Linked DNA regions of Homo sapiens. The protein of the gene in region 1 purifies or fractionates together with the protein of each later gene. This does not show direct contact. Each region holds a gene or a part of one and is shown on either strand. Other genes may lie near its edges. The genes, in order: IDS, SUMF1, GUSB and MESD.

What was found.
Region 2: the proteins of IDS (region 1) and SUMF1 purify together in Homo sapiens (affinity purification with mass spectrometry; 4 studies listed by BioGRID and IntAct, with this or other methods). This does not show direct contact.
Region 3: the proteins of IDS (region 1) and GUSB purify together in Homo sapiens (affinity purification with mass spectrometry; 3 studies listed by BioGRID and IntAct, with this or other methods). This does not show direct contact.
Region 4: the proteins of IDS (region 1) and MESD purify together in Homo sapiens (affinity purification with mass spectrometry; 3 studies listed by BioGRID and IntAct, with this or other methods). This does not show direct contact.

Annotation. Positions count from the first base shown.
Region 1 is NC_000023.11:149,488,303-149,495,329, reverse strand, and holds part of IDS (iduronate 2-sulfatase isoform a preproprotein), read left to right. Parts: intron 1-3,662; exon of another isoform or gene 3,663-3,792; intron 3,793-4,889; coding exon 4,890-5,016; intron 5,017-7,027. UniProt on the Homo sapiens protein: Lysosomal enzyme involved in the degradation pathway of dermatan sulfate and heparan sulfate.
Region 2 is NC_000003.12:4,464,265-4,471,113, reverse strand, and holds the start of SUMF1 (formylglycine-generating enzyme isoform 1 precursor), read left to right. Parts: upstream 1-3,844; 5' UTR 3,845-3,868; coding exon 3,869-4,138; exon of another isoform or gene 4,139-4,290; intron 4,291-6,849.
Region 3 is NC_000007.14:65,965,211-65,972,237, reverse strand, and holds part of GUSB (beta-glucuronidase isoform 1 precursor), read left to right. Parts: intron 1-1,871; coding exon 1,872-1,956; intron 1,957-4,330; coding exon 4,331-4,507; intron 4,508-7,027. UniProt on the Homo sapiens protein: Plays an important role in the degradation of dermatan and keratan sulfates.
Region 4 is NC_000015.10:80,979,801-80,986,827, forward strand, and holds part of MESD (LRP chaperone MESD precursor), read right to left. Parts: intron 2,383-7,027; coding exon 2,150-2,382; intron 1-2,149. UniProt on the Homo sapiens protein: Chaperone specifically assisting the folding of beta-propeller/EGF modules within the family of low-density lipoprotein receptors (LDLRs).

The DNA.
Region 1 (7,027 bases):
CAAGAGTTTGGTTGGTGAGAGGTGTACATTCCTCAAATGTATTTGATTCCTGTTTCACTGAGAGTTTGGAAAGCAATGCATCCATCTGTTTGTTTTCTAATTTTGTGTTTCTGGGCTCCTGATGGTGAAGTGGCTTGAACTGGCTCTGAGGCTGCACCTGGATGCTTTATTAGTGATGGTCACTTAAAATGACCCTTCAAAATGGACTGTGTGCCAGGAAGGGCGCTGATTCATGTGTGGTATCGCCTTTAGTCCTCATGGGGACTTAGTGAGGTACCTGCTCTCTGTTGTCTAGGTGAGGAAACTCAAGGCATGGGAGGTGTGCTGACTTGTCTGACAGCACAAAATTAGTGCTGGGTGGAGCCAATTCATCCCCAGGGACTGTAACTCCAAAGCCCCATGGTTGGATCTGTTGGTTCCCAGCAGTGTGGGTTCGAATTCATGTTCTACCTCATACCAGCTGCCTAACCTCTGTCAAGTCATGTTACCTCCCTGAGCCTCCCTGAGTTTTCTTCTCTATAAAACTGAAACAAGGTAGGTAAAGTTTTTCCATGATAACACCTACTTTAGAGATTTTCAGCAAGAACCAAAGAGAGCATGTAGAAGTATCTAGGACCGTGTCGGCTGCACGGAGCTATCTCCTTCAAGTTCTCTTAGTCCCCTCCTTACACACAGTGGACAGCATGACTCAGAGGGCCTCCCTGATGCCTGCATGTGCTGGTCTCAGCCCTGTGTTCCCCTTGAACTCTGGCCTGCTCACTGTCCTCTTGTAGCTTTGGATGTCCGCATCCAAGCCCATCTCACTGCACCCTTGAGACTCAGCTCTGGGATCTCTTCAGCTCCAGCCCTCTAACTCAGCTCTACATGAGCCAGTGACCTCAGGGGCCACACTCAGGAGTTTGTTGCCTGCTCCTTCCGAGTCACCATACTGACCACAACCTCTTCTCCTAGCACTTCCCTTGCTCTACCTCACGGGGATTGCTAGAGTATGGATTTCTATCTCCCCCTTGTGTCCAGGTCCTGTTGGCTTTGTTGCTTCCCTAAATAGCTAAGGCCTGGTGGCAGGTGACTTACTGTACTTCCCAGCCGCCCAGCTCACCATACTTGTCCATTTATCCTTGCCCCTCCTGCAGTACCTTTATCGTCAGACACTCCAGCCACACCCTCTGCTCTGTAGTCCAAGTCCTGAAAGCTGCTGGAGAAAATCCATGCCCCCACGAAGCAGGGAGGCCCTCAGATGCCCCGCCTCCAGCCCCAGCAGCCCAGGCAAGCTCTCTGCTCAGCTCACCTCACTTGTCCTCTGCAGCTGCTCCGTTTGCATGACCTCTTCTCTACTCCCTTTCACTGCTCCCCTCCAGGCCTTTGCCACCCCTGTGCCCCATTTCTCAGTGGATAGCACCTTTCCTCTTGTAGAAATGGAAGCTGGTGGACAGCCAGAGGTAGGGGATCGGACAGGGTGGATGTGGGTACGCATCCTGGCTGTGCCCCTTATCAGCTGTGTGACTCTGGGCAAGTTAACCTTTCTGAGTCTTGGAGTCCTTAATGTGCCGTTCACAGGATCAGATGCCACCTAGTGTGTACTTGCTGAATGGGCTCTATTAATAATCTCTGTCACTGAGACCTGGAATTTTGTGTATGCATGTTCTGGGCTCGAGGCCTCTTCCCTCAACTCCCCACCACTGTCCCTGCTTCCCACGTCTGCAAGCAGAATGAGCAAGATCTTCCTTCTCACCTACCTACCCTGCAGCCTCTCCATCCACTCTCATCCCTCCCAGCTGCAAAAGTGCCAGCCCCCTTGCCCCTGCCTGTTTCTGCTTTCCACTCCTTCACCTGACCTCCAAGGCAGAGCGAGTGCACACTGGGCTGTTCTGGCTGTGTCTGTGGCCTCATTGTCCATTTGTTCTTCACCATCCTCTACACAGGCTTCCACCTCCCCAATCCACTAAACTCTCACCTCAGCACTGACCTTGGTGGCCAGTAAAATCTATCTGTGTAGGTCCTGACCTTCCTTGAGCTCTGTGTCACTTCCTCACTGTTGGCCAGCTCCACCCCTTCTGGGACTGTTGGCCTCCCAATCCTTTCTGTGTCTGCCACTTAGGTGCCACTTCCCAGGCCCCCCACTATATCCTTTCCACCTCTTCTTCCCCTGCTGGGCTCAGTTGAGCCTTGGCAGATGACTCCAGAACTACCCCTTCAGCCCAGGTCTCTCCTGATTTTCAGATATGTGTGTTGACCTGCCTGTGAGAGCCATTCCTAGGCAGATGACCCTGGAGACCTCAGCTCCATAGGCTTCCGCGTGGTCAGGCCACCACCCCTGCCCTGCCTTTTCTCCTTCCTCCTCCTCCTCTTGCGCCCCCTGCCCCCAAATGCCAGCGAATTATGCCACCAGCTGAATGTGAAACCTGGAGTCACCCTTGGGTTCCTCAACACCTCCTCCTCCTCTGCTCCCTGCCCCCATGTCTGCTTGATGCCCCTGAATTCCTCTCACATCCACACAGTCCTCTGGATCCTTCAGCACATTGTTCTGGACCACCTCAGTGGGCCTTGCTTTGTTTTGTTCATTCAGCAAGTGTAGTGAGCACCTCTTATGTACCCAGCAGTGGCCTAGTACCATTTTGTCTAAAGCCTCTGGAATCTGTGTCTGTGTCCTGTTGCAACAGGACTCTTAATAACTTGAAGCCCAGATCATGTCAATTTCTCGCCTTGAAAGACCTCAGTGACTCCATTGGCCTAGAACTTGGAGTCTCCACTCCCTGGATAGACCCACCAGGTCCATATTATCTGGCCCGGACCTAACTTTCTAGTCACCCCTCTGCCCTCCCATTTGATTCTCCAGTCACATGGGCCTTTCATTGGCCCCAAATGCAACCTGCTCTGTCACAACTCCACACTGTTCCGTGCCCTGCAGCCCCTGCTTGGAGCATCTGAGCCCCATTTGTCTGACTGCAGGTGCTTCTTGTCAAATTCTAACTCCTCTGTGAAGCCTTCCCTGAATCTCCCAGGCAGATTTGAGGGCTTATTCCCCTGTGTCACCCCTGGGCCTCTGTGGGGGATCGGTCAGAGTGGTGGGAAAAACTATAGGGAAAGGATGCAAACCTTCTGAAAGGTCAGAAGGTTCTGCAGAGCCCCAGGGGAGAATAGCTGTTCTATAACCCTGAGGCAGAGGGCAAGGAGTAGGTACAAGGGAGTGTGGGAGAATTTATCTTAAACAGGCTTGTTTACTTATGTTGACCAGGAACTGACCTTTGATCGTCTGTGCTTGTGAGGTTCCCTGAAAGGGGAACAATAAATGTTAATTACCTGCAGGTTGGCTCTAGGTTTTTGGCATTATGCCTGCACTGAATAAAAGCCAGCAGCTCCAGCTTCTCGGGGCTGCTCTCTGGCCACTAGAGCCAGGCAGTAACCTAGCTGCTCTTATGCTGCATACCTGTGTCTGAGTACTCATTTCATCCATAGGCCAGGGTCTGCAGGACAGACCCAGCAGGCCTCACTGATAATTAAGCATTTTCTTGTCTCCATGATTGTGTCCTCACTGGATGGGGTGGCTCATCAAGGGTGAGGACCTTGTCTGCTTATTGCCTTACGTCCAGGGGCTAGCATAGGAAGGAGGGAATACCTTTGTATAGGACATAGCCATCCTGACAGGTGTCTTTCATCCCCAGGAGGACCAAAGTTCCACAGGTTTCAGACTGAAGACTTCATCTACCAGAAAGTATAAGTAGGCCAGGGCTCAGCATAATCCTGCTGGAAGGCTAGATGTATATCTTTTCTCTTGACTGCAAGTGAGAACGGGTGAGTCTCATGATTGTCCTCACCCTGGCAGTGATGAGAAGAAGCTGGTGGGTCCAGCTGATAAGTCAGGGGCTGGTCTGCGAAGACACGGCTCTCTTCTCACCCCTCTTTGGGGTGGAAGATTAATTTTTGTCCTTAGCATTTGTGAACCAGGTTGGGAATGAGAGTCAGCCCAGGAGGGGCCGGTGGCTCATTTACTTCAGGGCATGATCTGGCTGTTCCCAAAGTGCCTCTTGGGTTCAGGGACTGTGAAGGACGTGCTGCTCTCTGGTATCTCCTTTGCTCTTCTCCTGCCTGCTGACAGTTTGTTAGAAATGAGCTCCACGTAACGGCCATAGTTCATGAAGATATGCAGTTGTAATCTGCTGTTGGGTTAGCAAGTGATCAGAGGGAAAGGCTCAGTCAGGGTTGCTGTTATGTGTTAAATTATGAATTTTTTTTTCCCTGAAAAGGGCTGTTGACATCCTAACCCCCCAGTACTGCTGAATGTAACCATATTTGGAAATAGGTTTATTGCAGATGTAATTAGTTAAGATCAGGTCATATTGGAGTAAGGTGGGCTCCTAATCCAATATGATCGGTGTCCTTTAAGAAGAGGGGAGAGAGACACGGGAAGAACACATGAAGATGGAGACACAGTGATACAGCTGCAAGCTGAGGAATGCCAGGGACTGACAGCCACCACCACCAGCTAGGGAGAGGCAAGATTCTTCTACTTAGAGCCTTCAGGGAGAGAATGGCCCTCCCAGCACCTTGATCTTGGACTTCTAGCCTCCAGAGCTAGGAGACAATACATTTCAGCTTAAAACAACAGAGCAGTAGGTGACACATTCATCCACTGTGATCTGTGCCCTAAAGTGAAATCTGATTTGCTTAGAAATGTATCTTATTTGTAGACCTACAGATTTTGCTGTGACTCTGTGGGTGAAGTGATGCTGATGGTAGGGAAAGGAGTGTTACATTTTGGCTGAGAAAATCATTAAGGGCATCAACTAAGGGGTAGGGATTGGGAGAGATGCACAGGCAAGCATTATCTCTGTATGCCTTGGCAATTTAAATTGCAGTCACTCTCATTTTTATTTTTTTTCAATTTGCAGCGGAAAATCCGCCAGAGCTACTTTGCCTCTGTGTCATATTTGGATACACAGGTCGGCCGCCTCTTGAGTGCTTTGGACGATCTTCAGCTGGCCAACAGCACCATCATTGCATTTACCTCGGATCATGGTAAGCATTTTGAAATTCCCTGGTGAGTCAAAACATCTGAACTTTCCTGTGAAACATGCTTTGCAAAATTGCCATTGACATAAACATGGGTGTGTTCTCTTTTGTGAACCAGTGGTTCACAAACAAAGTGGGATCCTGGGGCATTTTTATGATCAGCTTGTTAGTCCTGAGACCTCTGTCTTAGATGCTTGACGGATAGGTGTGGGTGGGTGGGGGAGGGTCTTGCAGCAACTTTTTTTTTTTTCTTGATGAATGCAGCAGGAACCCTCCATTTGTGTGGCAGAGCTCTTGTAACCCCCATTTTTAACCTGGAGGGTTGGAGGACTTTTAGTTTGGGTGGAGAGGATCCAGAACAATCCTGGCAGAGCCCAGCAAGCTCTTCACGCCTGGCTCCAGCCCTCCCACCCCTATCCCCGCTGTCTTCTCTGCCGAGAGCCTGGGCTTTTCAAGTCTTTATCTCCCCCTAAGGCTGTTTCCTACTTTTCCAAAAATGAAACTATCTTTTTAAAAGCATTTTTTAAATTCTTCAACATTCCAAGAGCAGGGAATAAAACAGCAGCTCCCCCCGTTTCCCACTCACATAGTCTTGTTCCTCTCATCCTCACCCACTCCCCCATCTCTGAATTGTTTCGAAGCAAATCCCAGATGGTTCCATTTTCCGATCACTGTCTCTGAAAAATATTGCCTCTTTTGAAGTATAACCATAATACTGTTATACTTAGAGAAAGGAAAATAATTTTCATATCATCAAATATGAAATAGGATAATAGTAAATCATAACATGTGCTTATCATGAAAAGAAAAAAGGATACAGAGCATGTAATTCAGGGCCAGAACATCCTGCCCTTTTCTCCCACCTGCTCAGGGCTAACAGATGACAATGGATTAGGGATCCATCTGCCAGCCATCAGTTGTGCACATATGCACACAGGGATATATGTTATACATGTGTATGTTTGTAACATGTATGTCACAAGATGTGATTGCTTGTTCTGTGTGTACTGTTAACGTTCCCTGGTTTTGTACACTTAATGTCATAGGCAATCTCTGTGTCATTTCTCAGAAGCCTACCTTTTCCCTTAGAAATGTCTGTAATATTTTATTATATATGGAGGTGCCATAATTTTTCACATATTCCTGATTATCTGCCATCTGCTTCTGAGCCCTCGGTGCCCAGTTTCCTCTTCTCCACGAACACACTCTGTTGTGAGGCAGTTGCCGTAGATTACAAATAGCCCATCTCAGAGTCCCCTCCTGGGACATCCTCCATCAGAACCGCCTGGGAGCCAGTAAAACATGCTGGTTTCTGCAACTGGTCTCAGGAGCTCGCAGTTCTGGGCATGGGAAAGTGCACTTTAACAGGTGTCTCAGGTGGTCTGGCCACCTCTCCCTGAGCTCATCATTCCCTGGGCCTCCCTATGTTGCCACGTCCTCATCTTGGGCCTCTGGGGCAGGAGCCAGAAACCTCCTGAGCTGCCTGTCAAGGTCATCGGGCTTGTTCCTCCTGATCTGGAGATGGATCCTTGGGGCCCACACAGGCACGCGTTCTCCTTAGCCAGACTTCCCCGTATTTGCTCCTGGCTGCAGCAGCACAGGCTGAGGCCCGGCACCAGATGTTCAATACGATCTTGCAGTCAGGCGGTCCACAGCTATTTCTGTAGCATTTGCCATGTGTCAGACCCTGTGCCAGGCCTGGGGGCCCCCTCTGCCTGGTGCAGGGCAGCTCACAAAAGCTGGCAGAGGCCGAAGGCTGCGTGCCAGTATTCAGAATGCCACAGAGCGCCTGGCTGCTGTACCTTCAGAGCCTCCACAGGCACCCCAGTCAGAGTTCCGGGAGTGGATTCCTGAGGTCGCACTGCCAGGTTCCCTCACGTTGCCATCCTGCAGGCTTCTCGATCCTTGACCTTTTAGATTCCCGCCACACTGAATCTAAAAGGGACAATGTGACCTCTAAGCTGGTGGCCTAGGAGCCTGCCGATAACCTACCCATTCATCAGCCCTCGTGGGTCAA
Region 2 (6,849 bases), on another chromosome or scaffold:
CACTGCACTCCAGCAATCCAGCCTGGGTAGCAGGGCAAGATCCTGTTTTTTTTTTTTTTTTAAACCCAAACCCAAAAGGTTAGAATTTCCATATGACCCAGCAATCCCACTTCTAGTATATATGAAGACAAATGAAAACATGTGCAAACAAAAACTTGTACATGGATGTTCATATCAACATTATTCATCAAACCCAAAAAGTGGAGCCAAGTGTCCTGCACGTGTGAAGTAGATAACATTTTGACTTGTGCCTTTCCTACTCCAAGAGCCTCAGGCAGCATCACTGTCTGAGGGCTTTCAGAATGCCTTATGCATAGGCATATATTCCTACACCACATGACATCTGACCGGGGACCCACTTCACAGTGAAGGAGGTGCAGGGGTAGGCCATGATCACAGAATCCAGTGGTTTTATCCCTTACAATACGAACCCAAAGCAGCTGGCCTCATAAAGGGTGAAAATGGCTTACTGAAAGCACAGCTGAAACGCCAGCTTGGATGCAATTTCCTGCAAAGATGGGGCCATCTATAAGGATGCAGTATACGCCCTCAATTAGAGATGTCAGACTTGTTCCCACGTAGGAAGAATATATAGGTTCCACCAAGAGGTGGAAGTAGAAGTAGCCCCACTTACTATTACTCCTACTGACTTACTGGGATTTTGTTCTCCCATCCCTGCAACTCTGAGCTCTGCAGAGCTGCAGGTCCTGATCCACAAAGGGATGCTGTCTTTCTGTGGACACAACCAGGGTCCCATTGAACTACAAGCCATGGCTACCATCAGGGCACTTTGCATTCCCTGTGTTCAGGAACCAGAAAGCAAGAGAAGCCTCTAACCTGGAGGGAAAATTGATGCTGCTCAGCAGGAAGAGTGTCAGATGTCTTCTCAAAACTGCAGTGGCACCAACTTTCACAGTAAAAGCTTACCAGAACATCCATGACTTGGCCCAATGTTACCTTTCTGTTCTCCTTTCATCCATGACTTGGCCCAATGTTACCTTTCTCATCTCCTTTCCTTTCTTCTCTCCCCCTTGCTCACTCCACTGTAGCCATGCTGAACTCTTTGATGTTCAGTGAGCAGACAAGCTGCTTTCAGGACTGGGGTCTTTCATCCTCCCAGCTTCATGAGATAGAAGGAGCAAGAAAGGCTACAAAATGCAGAAGGAGCTCACACGTGAGACGGAGGGTGAGAGATATTTTATATAATTACACTAATTCGTACGAGCTGATGGCTGAGTTGGACTTTTTACCTCTTAATTTTTAGAACAAGCCTCCTCACTGACAGGAGCAAAATATTAGAGTGGAAAATATTGATGAGAAATCTCTCATCGATCTCATACTCATTGATTATTGACTAAAAAGTTAGCCTGAGACAAAAGAATGATCGTCCTGGAGAACCAACAAAGTTCCATCTTTCATAATGATTAGTAATAGCAAAGTTATTTTTGAGATATGTTAAATGTCAGGTACCAGGCTACACCTTTTATATACTTTGTGTTATTTAATCCCCATAAAATCTATAAGAAAAAGGAATTATTATTCCCATTTCACACACGAAGAAATAGAGGCTCAGAAAGCTGAAATAATTTGCCTAGGTCATACTTCATGTAAAGTGGCCAGCTTTAACCACAGCTCTTTGTGAGTCTAAGACCTATATTATTTTCTCCACAATTTGATTCCCCTTAAGAGAAAGAGATAATCGTTACTTCATTTGTTCATTCACTTATCCATAATTTAATAAATGTTCACTGAGTGATCATGTGCAGGCTTGGCCTGATTTTGCTGATACAGTGGCAAACGAATAGGCTCCTGCCTTACCTTCATGGAGGTTATAGCCTAATGGTATAGCTGGACCAGGAATCAAAGAAGTTCAGGTCTCTGAAGCGCAGCTGACACAGCATGTGCTGAGACTGATATTTGAAGGAGGCGAACAAAGATTACCGTTGACCTAGACCTTGACTATATATTATGCACAGTAAATACATACAACCTTGGTTAAGGCATTGACCTTTTAGCTTCATCAATTTTGAAATGAGTATAGTAATAATACATTTCTTGCCAAGTGGTTGTAATCTCAAATGAGAAAATGTGTGAAAGGCCTTGGCAAACTGTAAAATAGTCAACAAGGAGAAAAGGCCTTTTTTTTTTTTTTGAGAGATGGTCTCACTTTGTCACCCAGGCTGGAGTGCAGTGGCACAATCATGGCTCACTGCAGCCTCTGCCTACCAGGCTCAAGTGATCCTCCTGCCTCAGCCTCCGAAGTAGCCAGGACCACCGGTGTGCGTCACCATGGCCAGTTAATTTTCTTAATTTTTTGTAGAGACAAGGTCTTGCTGTGTTGCCCAGGCTGGTCTCAAGCTCCTGGCCTCTAGCGATTCTCCTGCCTCGGCCTCCTAAAGTGCTGGGATTACAGGCTTGAGACACGGTGCCTGGCTGGTCTTTTCTTTATGCTAAAAAAATTCAAACAGATGCTACATTAGAATAGTGCAATAAACACCCAGATGCCCATCAACCAGCTATGACAGTTATCAACTCATGGCCAATCATGCTTCATCTTTAGCCAGACCCTGATTACCCATTTTTTGGGAAGCAAATCTTTGACTGCCTATATTTTTATCCATATATATATATGTGTGTGTGTGTGTGTGTGTGTGTGTATACCTCAGTGAGTGTGTGTGTACCTCAGTGAGGGGATTCTTTTAAAAAATATAGCCACAAATACCATTATTACTCCTAAAAGCCTAAAAACAAAATTTACAGCAATTCCTTAATTTTATCAAATATTATAATTTGACTTAGTGGTTAAATTTCCCTGATTATCTCAAAAATTTTGAACTCAGTAGGTTTGAATTAGTATTTAGATAAGGTTCACATATTGCAGCTGGCTGCTATGTTTTTTTTTTTTTTTTTTTTTTCAGATGGAGTCTTGCTCTGTCCCCAGGCTGGAGTGCGGTGGCGCCATCTCGGCTCACTGCAAGCTCCACCTCCCGGATTCATGCCATTCTCCTGCCTCAGCCTCCCGAGTAGCTGGGACTACAGGCGCGTGCCACCACGCCGGGCTAATTTTTTGTATTTTTTAGTAGAGATGGGGTTTCACCGTGTTAGCCAGGATGGTCTCGATCTCCTGACCTCGTGATCCACCCGCCTCGGCCTCCCAAAGTGCTGGGATTACAGGCTTGAGCCACCGCGCCCGGCCTGCTATGTTGTTTTTTAATCTGTAAGTTTCTCCTTCATCTTCTTTTTGTTTTGGTTTTGCATTTTGTTCGATTACGGAACTGTAGAACAGTGGTTCTTAAACTTAAGTGTGGATTAGAATCATCTGGAGAGCTTGTGAAACCCTGGATTGCTGTGTCCAGTCCCCACGGATTCTGATTCCGTATTGTATTTCTCTTTTTTTTTTGAGACGGAGTCTTGCTCTGTCGCCGAGGCTGGAGTGCAGTGGCGGGATCTGGGCTCACTGAAACCTCCGCCTCCCAGGTTCAAACGATTCTCCTGCCTTGGCCTCCCGACTAGCTGGGACTACAAGCGCGCCATTACTGGGTCTTTGTGAGGATTAAATGAGATTTTAAAAAGTGAAGTGCTTAGCATAGTACTCTGGCACTTACCAAATGCCCAGCAAATTTGACTGTTATTTTTCAACCAAGAAATCATAAAGGGGTGCACGGTCTGTGGAAGGCCTTGAGTTTTGTGGAGTTTTGTGTTTTGCTGCGTTTTGACGTTAGCACAGGCAAGCAGCAGCGCCAAAGAAGTACCTGAAGAAAGGTGAAGAGCAACTCTCCTGGTCACTTCGTAAGTCAGCTCAAAATTCTGCCCCTTTAAGGAGGGCTCAGCCACGTGACCAACCGGGTCACATGGCCCGCGGGACAACATGGCTGCGCCCGCACTAGGGCTGGTGTGTGGACGTTGCCCTGAGCTGGGTCTCGTCCTCTTGCTGCTGCTGCTCTCGCTGCTGTGTGGAGCGGCAGGGAGCCAGGAGGCCGGGACCGGTGCGGGCGCGGGGTCCCTTGCGGGTTCTTGCGGCTGCGGCACGCCCCAGCGGCCTGGCGCCCATGGCAGTTCGGCAGCCGCTCACCGATACTCGCGGGAGGCTAACGCTCCGGGCCCCGTACCCGGAGAGCGGCAACTCGCGCACTCAAAGGTGCTCCATCGATTCCTCCGAGGCGGGTGGGGGCTGCTCGGTTCCTGGACGGGGTTGGAGTAGGCAAAGCAAGGCACTAGTAGGAAGGGAAGTAAAGGTTATAACCACACCCCAAATCGAGCACCTGCTGTTCCCGTATGAGGAGTTCCTTCTCCGTGCCTCACCGGAAGACTCCATTTAATTGACCATTAGGGAGTTTGGTTTGAGGGTTATTGTTACTTCTTTACCCCCTATTTCTTTCTCCCTCCAACCTGTTCTCTTAATGAGGATCTCATAATTTTAAGGCAATCAAATTATGGTTTAAATCACCATTTCCTCTCTTATTAACGGAATAAATTAGGATCCTGGGTCTCAGTATCTTCACCAGGGTTGTTGTATACTTATCTGTAGTCTCCTCGAGTACACTCTGCTTGAGGACAAGGGCTTGAATTGTTTATCCTGCTATTCTTAGCACTTTAGCACTTAGGAAGGGCTAAGCAAACTGTAGTTGTTTTATTGCTATTATTTATCTGTCTTGCTTAGCGCCTGTATGTGTTAGGTGCCGGGATATATAAATAACTTACTGGCCGGGCGCGGTGGCTCACATGCCTGTAATCCCAGCACTTTGGGAGGCCGAAGCGCGCGGATCACGAGGTCAGGAGTTCGAGACCAGCCTGGCCAACATGGCGAAACCCCGTCTCTACTAAAAATACAAAAATTAGCCGGGCGTGGTGGCGGGCGCCTGTAATCCCAGCTACTCGGGAGGCTGAGGCAGGAGAATTGCTGGAACCCGGGAGGCGGAGGTTGCAGTGAGCCGAGATCTTGCCACTGCACTCCAGCCTGGGCGACAGGGCGAGACTCCGTCTCGAAAAAAAAAAAGAAAGAAAGAAATAACTGTTACTTCAATCTGTCTGCCCGGTATTTTGCATATTGATGTGTTGTCGAAACAACTTATGGGTCTAAAGGTCAGGTCTTCTGACTCCTAAACTAGTGCTCCTTCTTGTTTACTTAGCAGACACTATCCTTTTCCCATTCCATTTTTCTTTCCTTTGGGTTAATCCTGACCAATATTTAGGACTTAGGTGAGAGGTAACATCCACAGTAGGTTTTACCTGATCTCCTCTTTCTCTCCCCTTCAATATTTCCGTATCCTGCCTCAGTAGTTATGTGTTTATTCTGACATAACAATTATTAAAGATGTTTTTCTGCTGATGTCTCTCCCCAACTGGACTGTGAGGGTGATGGGGTCAGGACCATGATTTAGTCTCTCAGGTGTAGAGTGTAGGAGGTTGATACCTGGGCTTCTCATTGTTTTTCCATCCTGTATAATTTTTGGCCTTTACTTTTTTTCCTGTTACCCTTAGAGCATGTCCTGCAGTACTGTTTATCTTTTGTGTGTTGAAGACTCCTGATTACTGTTTTAGTGTGTATTGGCCATACTTGATATTAATTCCTCTCTAACTTGCCTGGTAATTGATAATCAATCTCTCTTTCTTTTTTCTTTTCTTTTTTTTTTTTTTAGACGGAGTCTCGCTCTGTCACCAGGCTGGAGTGCAGTGGCGCGATCTCCGCTCACTGCAATCTCCACCTCCTGGGTTCGAATGATTCTCCTTCCTGCCTCAGCCTCCCAAGTAGCTGGGATTACAGGCACACGCCACCATACCCAGCTAATTTTTGTATTTTTAATAGAGATGGGGTTTCACCATGTTGGCCCGGATGGTCTCAATCTCCTGACCTTGTGATCCGCTTGCCTTGGCCTCCCAGCGTGCTGGGATTACAAACGTGAGCCACCGCGCCAAGCCAGTCTGTCCCTCTTTCTAAGGAGAAATCCTTACATCTGTTTATCTATTTTTTAATAGGGCAGCCATCTCATTTGCATATATACATTGGTCTGTCTCAAAATTTTATCTAGATTCCTCTGGCAAGCATTGAACATTTTTCATTTTTAAACATTCTATTTTCCTCTGGGTTCCAGAATGGGATGTGGATGTTAGAATCTTTTGGATTACATTTACAAGATGTACATTTTTCATCCCTATAGAGTGGTTTTGTGTCTTGACTGGATGCTATATGGGCCATCTTTGGCCAGTTCTTATAGTCTGCTTTCTACAATGCTTAGGGGCATCTCAATTTATTAACAAATTAGTGGTTGATGAGAATATACCTTCAAGCCTTCAAGGGCTGAACTTAATGACTGAAACTGAAGCAGTCTTGTTATCAAGACAATGACGTCATAGGAGGCTGTTCTTAATCTCTCTATTTTCCTTGGTTTCAAATGTTTTAGTTCATGTGCAGATGACTTTGGTCTAATTCTGACACTTTACCATTTATTCTAAATTCAGGAACTCCAATATTTCAGGAGAAGTAAATGAGCATAGTGGTGTTTCTGCCTTTTTTCCCCTCTTTGTTTTCTGTTTATTTGGTTTAATTAAACAAATGTTTATTTGGCACATTACTATATAACACTTGTTATGTAAGATTCATCCTATGTGCTGGGCATACAGAAAAAGACCCATACACTACCCACATGGCATTTACACTCTGGTAGGTGTTTCTCTCTCTCTCACACACACACACACACACAAACACACACAGACACACACATAAGTATCATTTTTCTATAGTGAGAATACTATAGGAGGGATATGTCCAGAGTACCTGGAGAGGAAGAAAGAATTAATTCTTCATGGACAAGTCGAGTAGTGCCTCAAAAAAAAAAAGGCCACATTTGA
Region 3 (7,027 bases), on another chromosome or scaffold:
GTGAGCCAAGATCATGTCATTGCACTCCAGCCTGGGCTACAGAGTGAGATTCTGTCTCTCAAAAAAACAAAAACAAAAACAGTCTGTACTGTGGAGGCCTCGGGCAGGTGCCAGGAGCTCTGAGCACAGACGGGTCCCTCTGTTGGGTTTTTCTTCCCTTCTAAGGGCCATTTCTTCTTATTTATTTATTTATTTTTTGAGATGGAGTTTTGCACTTGTTGCCCAGGCTGGAGTGCAATGGCACAATCTCGGCTCACCACAACCTCTGCCTCCTGGGTTCAAGTGATTCTCCCGCCTCAGCCTCCCGAGTAGCTGGGATTACAGGCATGCGCCACCACGCCCAGCTAATTTGTATTTTTAGTAGATATGGGGTTTCTCCGTGTTGGTCAGGCTGGTCTCGAACTCCCAACCTCAGGTTATCTGCCTGCCTCAGCCTCCCAAATAGCTGGGGCCACAGGTGTGTGCGGCCATGTCAGGCTAAGTTTAAATTTTTTTTTTTTTTTCCGCAAGATGGAGTCTTGCTTGTTGCCCAGGCTGGAGAGCACTGGTGCAATTTTGGCTCACTACAACCTCTACCTCCTGGGTTCAGGCAATTCTTCTGCCTCAGCCTCATGAGTAGCTGGGATTCCAGGCGCATGCCACCATGCCCAGCTAGGTTTTTTTTGTATTTTTTTGTAGAGATAGACTTTTACCATGTTGACCAGGCTGGTCTCAAACTCTTGACCTCATGATCCACCCGCCTCGGCCTCCCAAAGTGTTGGGATTACAGGCGTGAGCCACCATGCCCGCCCCTAATTTTTAAATTTGTTGTAGAAACAAGGTCTTGCTATGTTGCCCAGGCTGGTCTTGAACTCCTGGTCTCTGGTAAAACTCCCAAAGTGCTGGGATTCTAGGCGTGAGCCGCCTTGCCCGGCACTTGCACCATTTCTCTGCATGCGTCTCCACTCCCACTGCCCAGGACCTGTGGACTTAGATTTGAGTCACTGCTGAGCACCTCGCACCTAGCCCCATGCCTGCCTCCCAGCCTGCACTCCGTTTGCTTGATGCATTAATAAATATCCCTCCCAAATCTGCATCCATCCACCTCCTGTGTTCAAGAGCTGTTTCAGGGCGTCAACCTCATTTTTGCCAGTGTCCAGCCTAGTGACCTCAGCTCTGTGTACCTGGAAGAGTGGCTGCTCCTCTGGGGGTATAGGATTCGGAGATGGGGGTAGAAGGAGTGATGTTAGAGAGCTCGGTCTAGGACTAGAGGATCATATGCCCTTATGTAAAATACATCTCAAGTTAGGGAAGAAAGCAGCGGCTCCATGCTTTTTTTTTTTTCCCCTTTGTTTTTGTTTGTTTGTTTTGAGACAGGGTCTTGCTCTGTGGACCAGGCTGGAGTGCAGTGGCATGATCTTGGCCCACTGCAGACTCCTCCTTCTGGGTTCACGCCATTCTTCTGCCTCAGCCTCCTGAGTAGCTCAGACTATAGGCGCCGGCCACCACGCCCGGCTAATTTTTTGTATTTTTAGTAGAGACGGGGTTTCACCGTGTTAGGATGGTATCGATCTCCTGACCTTGTGATCTGCCCGCCTCGGCCTCCCAAAGTGCTGGGATTACAGGCGTGAGCCACTGCGCCTGGCCGCTAATTTTTGTATTTGTAGTAGATAGAGTTGGGGTTTCACCATGTTGGCCAGGCTGATCTTGAACTCCTGACCTCAAGTGATCCACCCACCTCGGCCTCCCAAAGTGCTGGGATTACAGGTGTGAACCATCGTGCCTGGCCCCGTGTTGTGTTCTGGCGGTGGAAGATGGGACAGAGAGGATGGGAGGGTGTCTGAGCCATTCCTGGACTGATGGAACCTGTTTCTTCTGCCTTTTGTGGACAGGATGGTGATCGCTCACACCAAATCCTTGGACCCCTCCCGGCCTGTGACCTTTGTGAGCAACTCTAACTATGCAGCAGACAAGGGGGTGAGCCTGGGGGTCCCCACCCCACTTCTCCCTGCCTTTGCCTGGGCTTGTCCTGAAGCCTGGTCATGGGAACAGCCAGGAAGAACCATGCGCTGCCAGTCTGGGTTTTATTTCATTTTCTTTTTTACTTAAAAAGATAGAGACAGGGTCTTGCCATGTTGCCCAGGCTGGTCTCCAACTCCTGGGCTCAAGCAATCCTCCTGCCTTGGCCTCCCAAAGGGCTGGGGTTACAGGTGTGGGCCACCACACCCCGGCCGCAGCCAGTCTGTTTTCACAGATGGTCTTTGGGTTAATGAGAATTCTCCCCCTGCTTACTCGCCAGGCAGTGTGGCTTTCTCAATCCAAGGAGGCTGGGCATAGGGAGATGGGATTTGTTTGCTCAGTTTGGACTCAGCATTTTTTGCACTTCGATTTAATAGACTCATAAAACATCAAAGATTTAAGGGAGCTTAGAGTTCATCTGGCCCACACCTGGCTGATGAGAATCTCTAGGGGAAGTTTTTATGAAATGCCAGATCTCTGCATTCTGAGGTCCTGATTTAGTACGTCCAGGGTTGGAACTTGAGTTTTTCTTTTTCTTTTGTAGAGGCAAGGTCTTACTCTCTTGCCCTGGCTGGAGTGCAGTGGTGCAATCACAGCTCACTGCAGCCTTGAATTCCTGAGCCCAAGTGATCCTCCTGCCTCAGCCTCCCGAGTAGCTGGGACTCCAGGTTTTCACCACTGCGCCTAGCTAATTTTATATCTTTTTGTAGAGGTGGCATCTCTCTATGTTGCCCAGGCTGGTCTCAAAGTCTTGAGCTCAAGTGATCTCCTGCCTTGGCCTCCCAAAGTGCTGTGATTACAGGCATGAGTTGCAGTGCCTGGCTGACATTAGCATTCTTTATTTATTTATTTATTTATTTTGAGATGGAATCTTGCTCTGTTGCCCAGGCTTGAGTGAAATGGTGCAATCTCAGCTCGCTGCAACCTCGTCCTCCCAGGTTCAAGCAATTCTGCCTCGGCCTCCTGAGTAGCTGGGATTACAGGTGCATGCCACCACACCCAGCTAATTTTTGTATTTTTTAGTAGAGATGGGGTTTTGCCATGTTAGCCAGGCTGGTCTCAAACTGCTGATCTCAGGTGATCTGCCCACTTTGGCCTCCCAACGTGCTGGGATTACAGGCGTGAGCCACCACACCCGGCCAGCATTTTTACTAGAAAGAAATGTGTTCAGGACGCATTAGAAACTAGCCAGTTGGACACAGAAGCCCCTGCTGCTCAGCTGTAAGCACCGCTATGCTGAAGCTTGGGGTGGTCCTACTCGGTCGTCACCGCCCTGCTCCTTGGAGTGACTTTTCTGGCCCTCTGCAGTCCACAGTGCTGCCTTGTGAAAGCTCCCTCAAGATCCTCTGTGACAGCCGGGCATGGTGGCTTACACCTATCATCCCAGCACTTTGGGAGGCCGAGGCAGGCAGATTACTTGAGATCAGGAGTTCAAGACCAGCCCAGCCAACTGGTGAAACTTCATTTCTACCAAAAATACAAAAAATTAGCTGGGCGTGGTGGCGCACGCCTGTAATCCTAGCTACTCGGGAGACTGAGGCATGAGAAGCACCTGATGGTGGGAGGCAGAGGTTGCAGTGAGCTGAGATCGCACCACTAACATTCTAGCCTGGGCGACAGAGCGAGACTCTGTCTCCAAAACAAAACAAAAGATTTTCTGTGAGAATGACTGCATCGGCCCCTCGGGTGGCAGCGCTTCTCCAGGGCAAGGTGAGGGGAAGCCCAGTGATGGGAGTGCTGCCTGGAGAGGAGTCAGTTCCAGTGGTGGGGGCCCTGGGCTTTGGCTGAGGGCTGTGCGTTGGCAGCTGCTGTGCCTCTCACAGCCCTTCCCAGCGGCGCACGTCATGAGTGTCAGTGTGGAGTCCCAGGCCTACCTCCTCTGGGCCACTTTGTGACCATGTTTCTTGCCTATGGCAGGGTAATTTCAGGATCTAAATTGGTACACTTGGACGTTCTCAGCCCCAGGAGGCAGCTGTTCCCGTTCTAGGTTTTTTTTTTTTTTTTTTTTTGGTAGAAATGGGGGCTTGTGATGTTGCCCAGGCTGGTCTCGAACTCCTGGGATCAAGTGATCCTCCCATCTTGGCCTCCCAATGTGCTGGGATTACAGGCATGAGCCACCGTGCCCTGCTAATTTTCTTACTACTATTTTTTGTAATGCTGCAGTCTTGCTGTGTTGCCCAGGCTGGTCTTAAGCCATCCTCCTGCCTCAGCCTCCCAGAGTGCTGGGATTACATCCCCCTTACCTTCTCTGCCAGAGGAGCCCCCGCAGTGTGTGAATGCTGAGTCATGCTGTCTACTGAGTGCTGAACGGGCTCTGCTGCTCTGGTCCTAGGCTCCGTATGTGGATGTGATCTGTTTGAACAGCTACTACTCTTGGTATCACGACTACGGGCACCTGGAGTTGATTCAGCTGCAGCTGGCCACCCAGTTTGAGAACTGGTATAAGAAGTATCAGAAGCCCATTATTCAGAGCGAGTATGGAGCAGAAACGATTGCAGGGTTTCACCAGGTAAGCAGTGTTGAGCTTTCTGCTTGTGTGTTCTCTCAGGGCAGAGATGTCACTCACCTCCTCCAGCCTGACCTGCGCCCACTGCACTGCTCCCCTCGCTTCAGCTTTGGGCTCTCCTCCCACGGCCCCGTCCACGTTCCCTCACCGCCAACAGCCAGGCCTGTGCCCCACTCACTTGGTCCTCAGAGGTGGCCTCCTTACTGGCTTTGTTTCCAGATAGCCTCCTATCACCCGTGCCCAAGTGGTCTTTCTAACAGATCCAAATTTGTATTTGTTTTTGAGACCGGATCTCTCTGTCACCCAGGCTGGAGTGTGGTGGTGCGATCACTGCTCACTGCAGCCTTAACCTCCTGGGCTCAAGTGATCCTCCCACCTCAGCCTCCTGAGTAGCTGGGACCATAGGCACATGCCAACACGCCTGGCTAATTTTTTTACTTTTGTAGAGATGGGGTCTTGCCATGTTGCCCAGACTGGTCTTGAACTCCTGGCCTCAAGTGATCTGCCTCAGGCTCCCAAAGTGCTGGGATTACAGGTGTGAGCCTCTGCACCAGCCACAGTTGAAAATTTTGGGAGTCCTGTCATTGGCTCCCCCAGGCCCACAGGACAAAGCCCTAACCTCTGGTCAGGACACTCAGTGTCCTCTGCTCTCTCCTGGGTTTTCATCCCCTTCTCCCCTCTATCCCAGCCACTGATCTGTTTCCACTGCCCTCGCTTGCTCTCCTGCTCTTGCTTGAGCTGTTTCTTCTGCCTGGAATGCCCATGTTGGCACCATAATCACCAACTAAAATATCCTTTTTCTTAATTTTCATATTTTAGATATAGGGTCTTGCTATGTTGTCCAGGCTGGTCTCAAACTCCTGGACTCAATTGATCTTCCTGCCTTGGCCTCCAAAAGTGCTGGAATTACAGGCATGATCCACTGTGCTAGCCTTTTTTTCTTTTTCTTTTTTTCAGGGTCTTGTTGTGTTGCCCAGGCTGGAGTGCAGTGGTGTCATCATAGCTCACTGCAGCCTTGAACTAAAGGGCTGAAGTAATTCTTCCACCTCAGCCTCCTGAGTAGCTGGGACGACAGGCATGAACCACCATGTGCAGCCTATTTTTAAATTTTTTTGTAAAGATGGAGTCTATCAGGCTGGTCTAGAACTCCTGGCCTTACGTGATTGTCCTGCCTCAGACTCCCAAAGTGCTGGGAATCCAGGCATGAGACACCATGCCCAGCCTGTCGTCATTTTTTTAATCTATCTCATTTTTTTGTCCTCCTCACCAAAGATATGTTGGTTTGTCTTGTGAGGTTTTTTTTTTCCTGTGGATTCCTGAACCCCATCCAGCCCCTCATTCCCACCCCAGCCAGCTCACACTTGTTTGTCACAGCTCCTGGTTGACACACAGGGAACAGCCACCCACAGTGGACTGCGCTGTTCTGTTTGCACCCTTAAATTTATCGTGCTTACAGAATGCCACTTCTGCAAACTAGTCAAGTAGGGGAAGTGGCTCTTGGATATATTTGCTTGCGCATCCTCTTTGAAAAGGTAACCAGCTCTGAATTCTTTTTTTTTTTTTGACACAGAGTTTCGCTCTCGTTGCCTAGGCTGGAGTGCAGTGGCGCGATCTCGGCTCACTGCAATGTCCACCTCCCTGGTTCAAGCGATTCTCATGCCTCAGCCTCCCGAGTAGCTGGGATTACAGGCATGCGCCACCACGCCCACCTCATTTTGTATTTTTAGTAGAGATGAGGTTTCACCATGTTGGTCAGGCTGGTCTTGAACTCCTGACCTCAAGTGATCCGCCCGCCTTGGCCTCCCAAAGTGCTGGGATTACAGGCATGAGCCACCGTGCCAAGCCCTAGCTCTGAATTCTTAAGAAACTCTTGAGAGGGTCTAGGTCAGTGCTGATAGAACCTCTGCAGTGCTGGGCATGGTGGCTCACACCTGGAATGCTGGCACTTTGGGAGGCCAAGGTCAGAGGATCTCTTGAGCCCAGGAGTTTGAGACCAGTCTGTGCAACATAGACCCCATCTCTACAAAAAATTTAAAATTAGTTGGGCATGGTTATGAGTGCTTGTAGTCCAAGCCACTTGGGAGGCTGAGGTGGGAGGATTGTTTGAGCCCAGTAGGTCAAGGCTGCATTCAGCTATGATTGCACCACTGTACTCCCACCTGGGTGACAGAGTGAGACCTTGTTTCAAAAAATAAAAAAAAACAAACTTGCAATGATGGAAATGTTCTATATTTGCACTGTCTGAAATGGTACACACTAGCTACACATGGCTACTGAGGTCTTGATATATGACTAGGATAACTGAATTGATTTAGTTTAATTAAATAAATTTTTTTGAGACAGCCTCACTCTGTTGCCCAGGCTGGAGTGCAGTGGCATAATCACAGCTCACTGCTCAACCTCCTGGGCTCAAGCGATCCTCCCTCCTTAGCCCCAAGTAGCTTGAACTGCAGGCGTGCGCCACCACACCTGGCTAATATTTTGACTTTTTGTAGAGACTGGGTCTCACTGTGTTGCCTAGAC
Region 4 (7,027 bases), on another chromosome or scaffold:
AGGTAAAGAGGCAGCTTCGATCTGATCTGTATCTGTTTTATATTCTAGAGTGTCCAGTTACACTTTTATGGGACAAAAGACTTCTGCTGATAAAGGTGGAAAACCAATGGCTTAGAGTGGGTCATGATAAGAGGCTATGAAGGACTCAAGAGGACACTTGGTTGTTGGACAAAAATCCTAGCCCTTGAGCTTAGCAGCAAGCTGCCCAGCTCGTCCACACTCGAAAGGTCCCAAGGAACAAAGCGGAAAGAATGAGGCCTGGGTGGAGCCCTAGTGTGGCCAGCGGGCAAGATTCTTCTGTTCCTTAGGGACTACACCACGCGTTCCCCCTTCAGTTTCTAATGCTCCCACCACTCCACAGAGACCAGTGGGCCTTCTGGAGCAGACATCACCAAGACATTTATTTGTTCTGTCTAGGTGTCTATTTAAGCTAATTGAAAATATTTTGCTGGCCGGACACTCTCTAAGTACTCCTCCCATTTCTTGTCATTGCTTTTATATTTCCTAAACCAGAATATTTGCAGACCCCAAATTTCAGAACTGTTTTTGAGGAAAAAGAAGCAGATTTCTTAAAATTGTACCTCAGGACCATACTCAAGTGTGAAAACTGAGCCTCTTCATACTAAATTAGTTATCGGTTAACAGCATGGTCCAAGCTCTATGTGTGAACATAGCTACACACAAAGCACTTTCCACTGAGCAGAAACTTCTAGCTGAAGCTGTCAAACTATTAACTTTGTCCCTCAAAGAGTCTAAACTAAGCTATACACCCTTCTGTTCAGATGAAATAAAAGCTAAAGATCCAAAGATAAATAAAACTTTAGGATCAACTGAGATATTAAAAAAAAACACACACTAGGCATGGTTGCCAGTGACAGTAATCCTAGCACTTTGGGAGGTTGAGGTGCAAGGATCACTTGAGGCCAGCAGTTCAAGATCAGCCTGGGCAACATAGTGAGACCTCGCCTCTTCAAAAAATAAAAACAAAAACTTAACTGCTTTTACCAACAATAAATGCCCTTTTTTTTTTTTTTTCTTCCCCGAGATGGAGTCTTGCTCTGCCGCCAGGCTGGAGTGCAGTGACGCAATCTCGGCTCACTGCAACCTCTGCCTCCCAGGTTCAAGCGATTCTCCTGCCTCAGCCTCTGGAGTAGCTGGGATTACAGGCGTGCATCACCATGCCCCGCTAATTTTTCTGTATTTTTAGTAGAGACAGGGTTTCCCCACGTTGGCCAGGATGATCTTGATCTCCTGACTTCGTGATCCGCCCACCTCAGCCTCCCAAAGTGCTGGGATTACAGAAGTGAGTCACTGCACCCGGCAACGCTCTTCTTTACATTAAAAAAATCTAGATAGGCTGAGTGCAGTGGCTCACACCTGTAATCCTAGCACTTTGGGAGGCTGAGGCAGGCAGATCACGAGGTCAGGAGATTGAGACCATCCTGGCTAACACGGTGAAACCCCGTCTCTATTAAAAATACAAAAAATTAGCTGGGCGTGGTGGCAGGTGCCTGTAGTCCCAGCTACTCGGGAGGCTGAGGCAGGAGAATGGCGTGAACCGGGAAGGCGGAGCTTGCAGTGAGCTGAGACTGCGCCACTGCACTCCAGCCTGGGCAACACAGTGAGACTCCGTCTCAAAAAAAAAAAAAAAAAAAACAAACTAGATAGATAAATAATTTTAAAAGAAAACCTAGAAAGGAAAGGCAGAGGCCCTTGGGAAATACGGCCAGAAAGGACACCCTGTTAAGAGCCTCAGGAAAAGCCCCAGCACAGGGCCAGGTGTGGTGGCTCACGCCTGTAATCCCAGCACTTAGGGAGGCTGAGGCGGGTGCATCACCTGAAGTCAGAAATTCAAGACCAGCCTGGCCAACATGGTGAAACCCTGTCTCTACTAAAAATACAAAATTAGCCAGGCATGGTGGCGGGCGCCTGTAGTTCCAGCTACTCGGGAGGCTGAGGCAGGAGAATCGCTTGAACCAGGGAGGCGGAGGTTGCAGTGAGCCGAGATCACGCCGCTGCACTCCAGCCTAGGCAACAAGAGCAAAACTCTGTCTCAAAAAAATCATCATCATCATCATAATTAATAATAATAATAAAGAAAAGACCGAGCACAGCCTATGAGTCTCTCAGCTGGTTGTTGCTGCTTTACCTCTGGACGTCATAGTTGGCATTGAAAAGGCTGCCCTGCCAGAGGCTCGTAATTTCCTCTGTCTCCTTCTCAGTAGGGCTTCCTGATACAGTGACAAACATCATGAGAGTCTTCCCTTTTTTCGTCATTTTCAATATGCTTTCAGGCTTGCTTGGGTCTATCTTTGAGAAGTCGACAGGTGCTGAAGGTCTCTTGTGCTCTGGAAGATCTCCTTCTTCAATGTCATCATCTTTCTATCAGATTAGGGGAAAAGCATCAAACCTATCATCAGAATCTTGCTTTTCAACTGGCACAGGCAAAAACTTCTGCATGATGTCAGGTGCATGTATATGACTTAAATTACAACATAAAAAGGAAAACCAGGGGTTTTCTTCCTCTTCTTAACTTTCAAGATAGTCTAAGTTTCAGGCAGCACATACTACCCACACCCAGGTTACCAATCACAGAGCGCCCCCATGTGATGGGTTTCTAGAGCTTTTAAACTCTCATACAATCTACCCAACATGGTAGGCTGTAAAAATGGCCACATTCTGGTATGGTCACACAATGAAATACTTCACAGCAACAGAGAACAAATACTGATACATCTAACAAATCCCAAAAATGTTAAGTGACAGAAGCCAGATACAAAATAAGATTTACTATGCAATTCCGTTTATTTAAAATTCAAGAATGAGCAAAACTAATCTAGGGTAACAGAAATTAGAACAGTGTTGCCTGTAGAAGGGGGGACAAGGGAGGATTAACTGAGAATGGACACAAGAGAACTTTTCTGGGGTGATGAAAATGTTCTACATTTTGACAGGGGTGTAGATTACACAGATATATCCATTTATCAAAATTTATTGCAGGCCAGGCACTGTGGCTTACCTTGTAATCCCAGCACTTTGGGAGGCTGAGGTAAAACGATCACTTGAGGCCAGGAGTTCGACATCAGCCTAGGCAACACAGTAAGACTGTCTCTAAAAAAAAATTTAAAAGTAGCCAGGTATGGCAATGCACACCTGTAGTCCCAGCTACAGTGAGGCACACCTGTAGTCCCAGCTACTCAGTAGGCTGAGGTGGGAGAATTGCTTGAGCCCAGGAATTTGAGATCAGCCTGGGCAACATAGTGAGATCCCATCTCTTAAAAAAAATTTAAAAATTAGTCAGGTGTGGCGGCAGGTGCCTGTAGTCCTAGCTACTCAGGAGGCTGAGACACGAGGATCACTTGAGCCCAGGAGATCAGGGCTGCAGTAAGCTATAATTATGCCACTGCATTCCAGCCTGGGAGACAGAACGAGACCCTGTCTTAAAAGAAAAAAAAAAAAAGAAAAGAAATACTCCCTCTTTGCACTGTATACTTAAAATCTGCACTCCATGTATACCCATTTCACTTAATAGGCATTGTACAAAAATATTCAATTCCAGTTAGCAGGTTTGTTTTCTGTAGTGGTATGGGCTAGCAATTCTGAGACTATCTTATGTGACCTCTAGGATTGAGAAAAGGAGTAAACATATTGAGGGTAATGAGAGCCAGGTTCTTAACTTCTGGGAAGTAAGTTACAAACATGAAAGGGGGAAGAATGAGCCCTGTGGTATTAGGCTGGAATTGAAGGTATCAGGAGAAACTCATGGTTTTTCATAGATTAACAGATGAGTAAACAGATTAATGGATAAAAATATTTAAAAGAGCGTGGGTTCCTTGGAGAACAGGCTTATAGCAAGAGAGACAGAAGATGAGCCTAGAATAATCCCGCATCACAAAGTAGTAAAGTGCTCAAAGAATCGTGAACATGTCAAAATGCCATGGAAGCCAACTTGAAGCAGCTCTCATGGGCCAAAGTTGAAATAATCTCAACATCAAAATAAATAATAGTATGACTTACAACCCCTCAAACAAAATGAGATGTTGAACCCATAATGATCAAAACAAATGAATAAATTACTAATAGAAAACAGTAACTTTTTTTTTTTTTTTTTTTTTTTTTGAGATGGAGTCTCACTCTGTCACCAGGCTGGAGTGCAGTGGCACGATCTCGGCTCACTGCAACCTCTGCCTCCTGGGTTCAGGCGATTCTCCTGCCTCAGCCTCCCGAGTAGCTGGGATTATAGGCACGCACCACCACATCCAGCTAATTTTTGTATTTTTAGTAGAGACGGGGTTTTGCCATGTTGCCCAGGATGGTCTCGATCTCCTGACCTCGTGATCTGCCCACCTCGGCCTCCCAAAGTGCTGGGATTACAGGCATTAGCCACCATGCCTAATAAATAGCATATAGACTGACAAATAAAAAATCTTTAATAGAACCAGGTTCCTTGGAGAAAAGGCTAATGCCAGCAACCAAAAAAAATGAAGTACTGGCTGGGTATGGTGGCTCACAACTATAACCTCAGCACTTTAGGAGGTCGAAGCTGGAGATCACCTGAGCACAGGAGTTAAAGACCAGCCTGAGCAACATATCATGACCCTATCTCTACCAAAAAGAAAAAGAAAAAAGAAAAAAGAAATGAAGTACTGATTGATACATGAAAATATTATGCTAAGTGAAAGAAGCCAGATATGAAAGACTACACATTCTATGATTCCATTTATAGGAAATGTCCAGAATGGATAAATCTGTTGAGACAGAAGGTAGATAAGCGATTGCCCGGGGCTGGCTAGGGAGTTGGGAGAACACAGGGGAGGAGTGGTTGAAGGTTTCTTTTGGGGATGATAAAAATGTTCTAAAATTGAGTTTGGTGATGACTGTACAATTCTCTGAAGATACTAAAACTAAAATGTACACTTTACATGGGTAAATTGCCTATGGCATGTGAATTGAATCTCAATAAACCTGTTACCAAAACAAAAAACAAAAAAAAGCCCCTAAGTCACTCTTACTGAACAATATCTGAAGGGCCAAGGCTTAAGATACCATTAATAATGTACTATATTAAAAATAATTTTAGTAAAAAGTAAAAACGAAAGAATTCTACGCAGTGCTTGAAGGTGATCCATACCGACGTCAGACCTGGAATCTGGTTTCAGTTTTGCATAACTAGCTGTGTGACCCTGCCTAAGAATCCTTACGCCTCGAGGCCTGTTTCCTCATTTACAAAATGAAAAGCAGAACGAAGTGATCTCCAAGGCCCCAGTAACATGACCACACATAACACACTAACCTTCTTTTCCACTCTGCCACCCTCTCAACTGACATGTTTCTTCCTCACTTTGCTTTCAAAGAGCCACTGATGGTGACTTGCAGACAGGAGCATGGGCTGTGCTGTCAGACGGATGCGCTCCATCACTATGTGGCCTTGGGCAAGTTACTTAGCCCATCTGAAAATAACTTTCCTTACCTATAATGGAAAGCTGAGGGTAATAACAGCTTCTCCCTCCTAAGGTTTGTTTGGGGATGTAATGACTTAAAGGCAAGCAGAACTCAGTACTGTATCTGTTGGCTATGACACTGCTGACTCTTTAGGCCTCTGTGATCTGGCCTCCAACCACAATCACTGCATGGAAATTATACTCTCAAGTCACAAAGGACCTCCTAGTTGCCAAATTCACAAGTTGTTTCTGTCTTTATCTTAATTCTCCATAACATCGGTTATAGTCTCTTTAAAACACTTCAAGACTTCCAGTTGGTTCAATACCCTAGAATATTTGTATTTTTCAGATTGATTTCACTAATAATCATGAAATTAACTCAGTAGGTCCCAAGCAGCTTTTTTTTTTTTTTTTTTTTTTTTTAGATGGGGTCTTACTCTATTACCCAGTTTGGAATGCAATGGTGCTGGTGCAATCTTGGCTCATTGCAACTTCTGCCTGCCAGGCTCAAGTGATCTTCCTATCCCAGCCTCCAGAGTAGCTGGGACCACAAGTGCATGCCACCACACCTGGGTAATTTATTTTTGTATTTCTGGTAAAGACGGGTTTCACCATGTTGCCCAGGCTGGTCTCGAACTCCTGAGCTCGAAGGATTCACCCGCCTCAGTCTTCCAAAGTGCTGGGGTTACAGGCATGAGCCACTAAGCCCAGTCCAGCACTTCTTTGTTAATGCAAATATAATTAAATAGTCGTAAGTCTAGTGCATATAATACAGGTAAAAATTGTTTCAAGAGACTTAAAAAAAAAAGCAGCTTTAATTTCCATTGTATATGTGTGTGTGTGTTTCAGTTACAGAAAAGAAAATTGCAAAATAGTACCCTAATGAGCCTGGAGGACATTATGTTAAGTGCAATAAGCCAGACACAGAAAGACAAATACCGCGCATTCTCCTTCGTATGCGGACCTAAAATAGTTGTGTTCACATAAGTGGAGATTAGAATTGTGGTTACTAGAGGCTGGGAAGTGGAGGGGAGATAGGGAGAGAGGATGGTGAATGGATACAAAATTACATTAGATAGGAAGAATAAATTCTAGTGCTCTATAGCATTGTAGGATGACTATAGTTAACAATAATTTATTGCATATTTTCAAACAGCTAGGAGAGAATTTTAAATGTTCCCAACACAAAGAAATGATTAATGTTTAGGAGACAGATATGCTAATTACCCTGAATTGACCATTACATTTTATACATGTGTAGAAATACAACTCTGTACCCCATAAATATGTATAATTATTATATGTTAAAATTGAAGTGTAAAAATAGTACCCTAGATGTACATAATTATCCAGTTCTACCCTTAGTCTGGGTAACCTAACCTGTTATGATCAGTGTGTTTATGCTGAAAACAATCCAGTCTTTACCCTGAGGCAGAGCGGGGGGCCAGGGACAAGTCAGGCAGTCCCCTGACTCCAGTCCTAGCCCTGCCTCCAGGCCAGTCTTGCATTTTCAACTGGCTTTAGAGCTCCTTCATTACTGTTTGTCTAAGTCAGTAGCTACAAAGCTGAGCTCCCCTTTCTGCAAA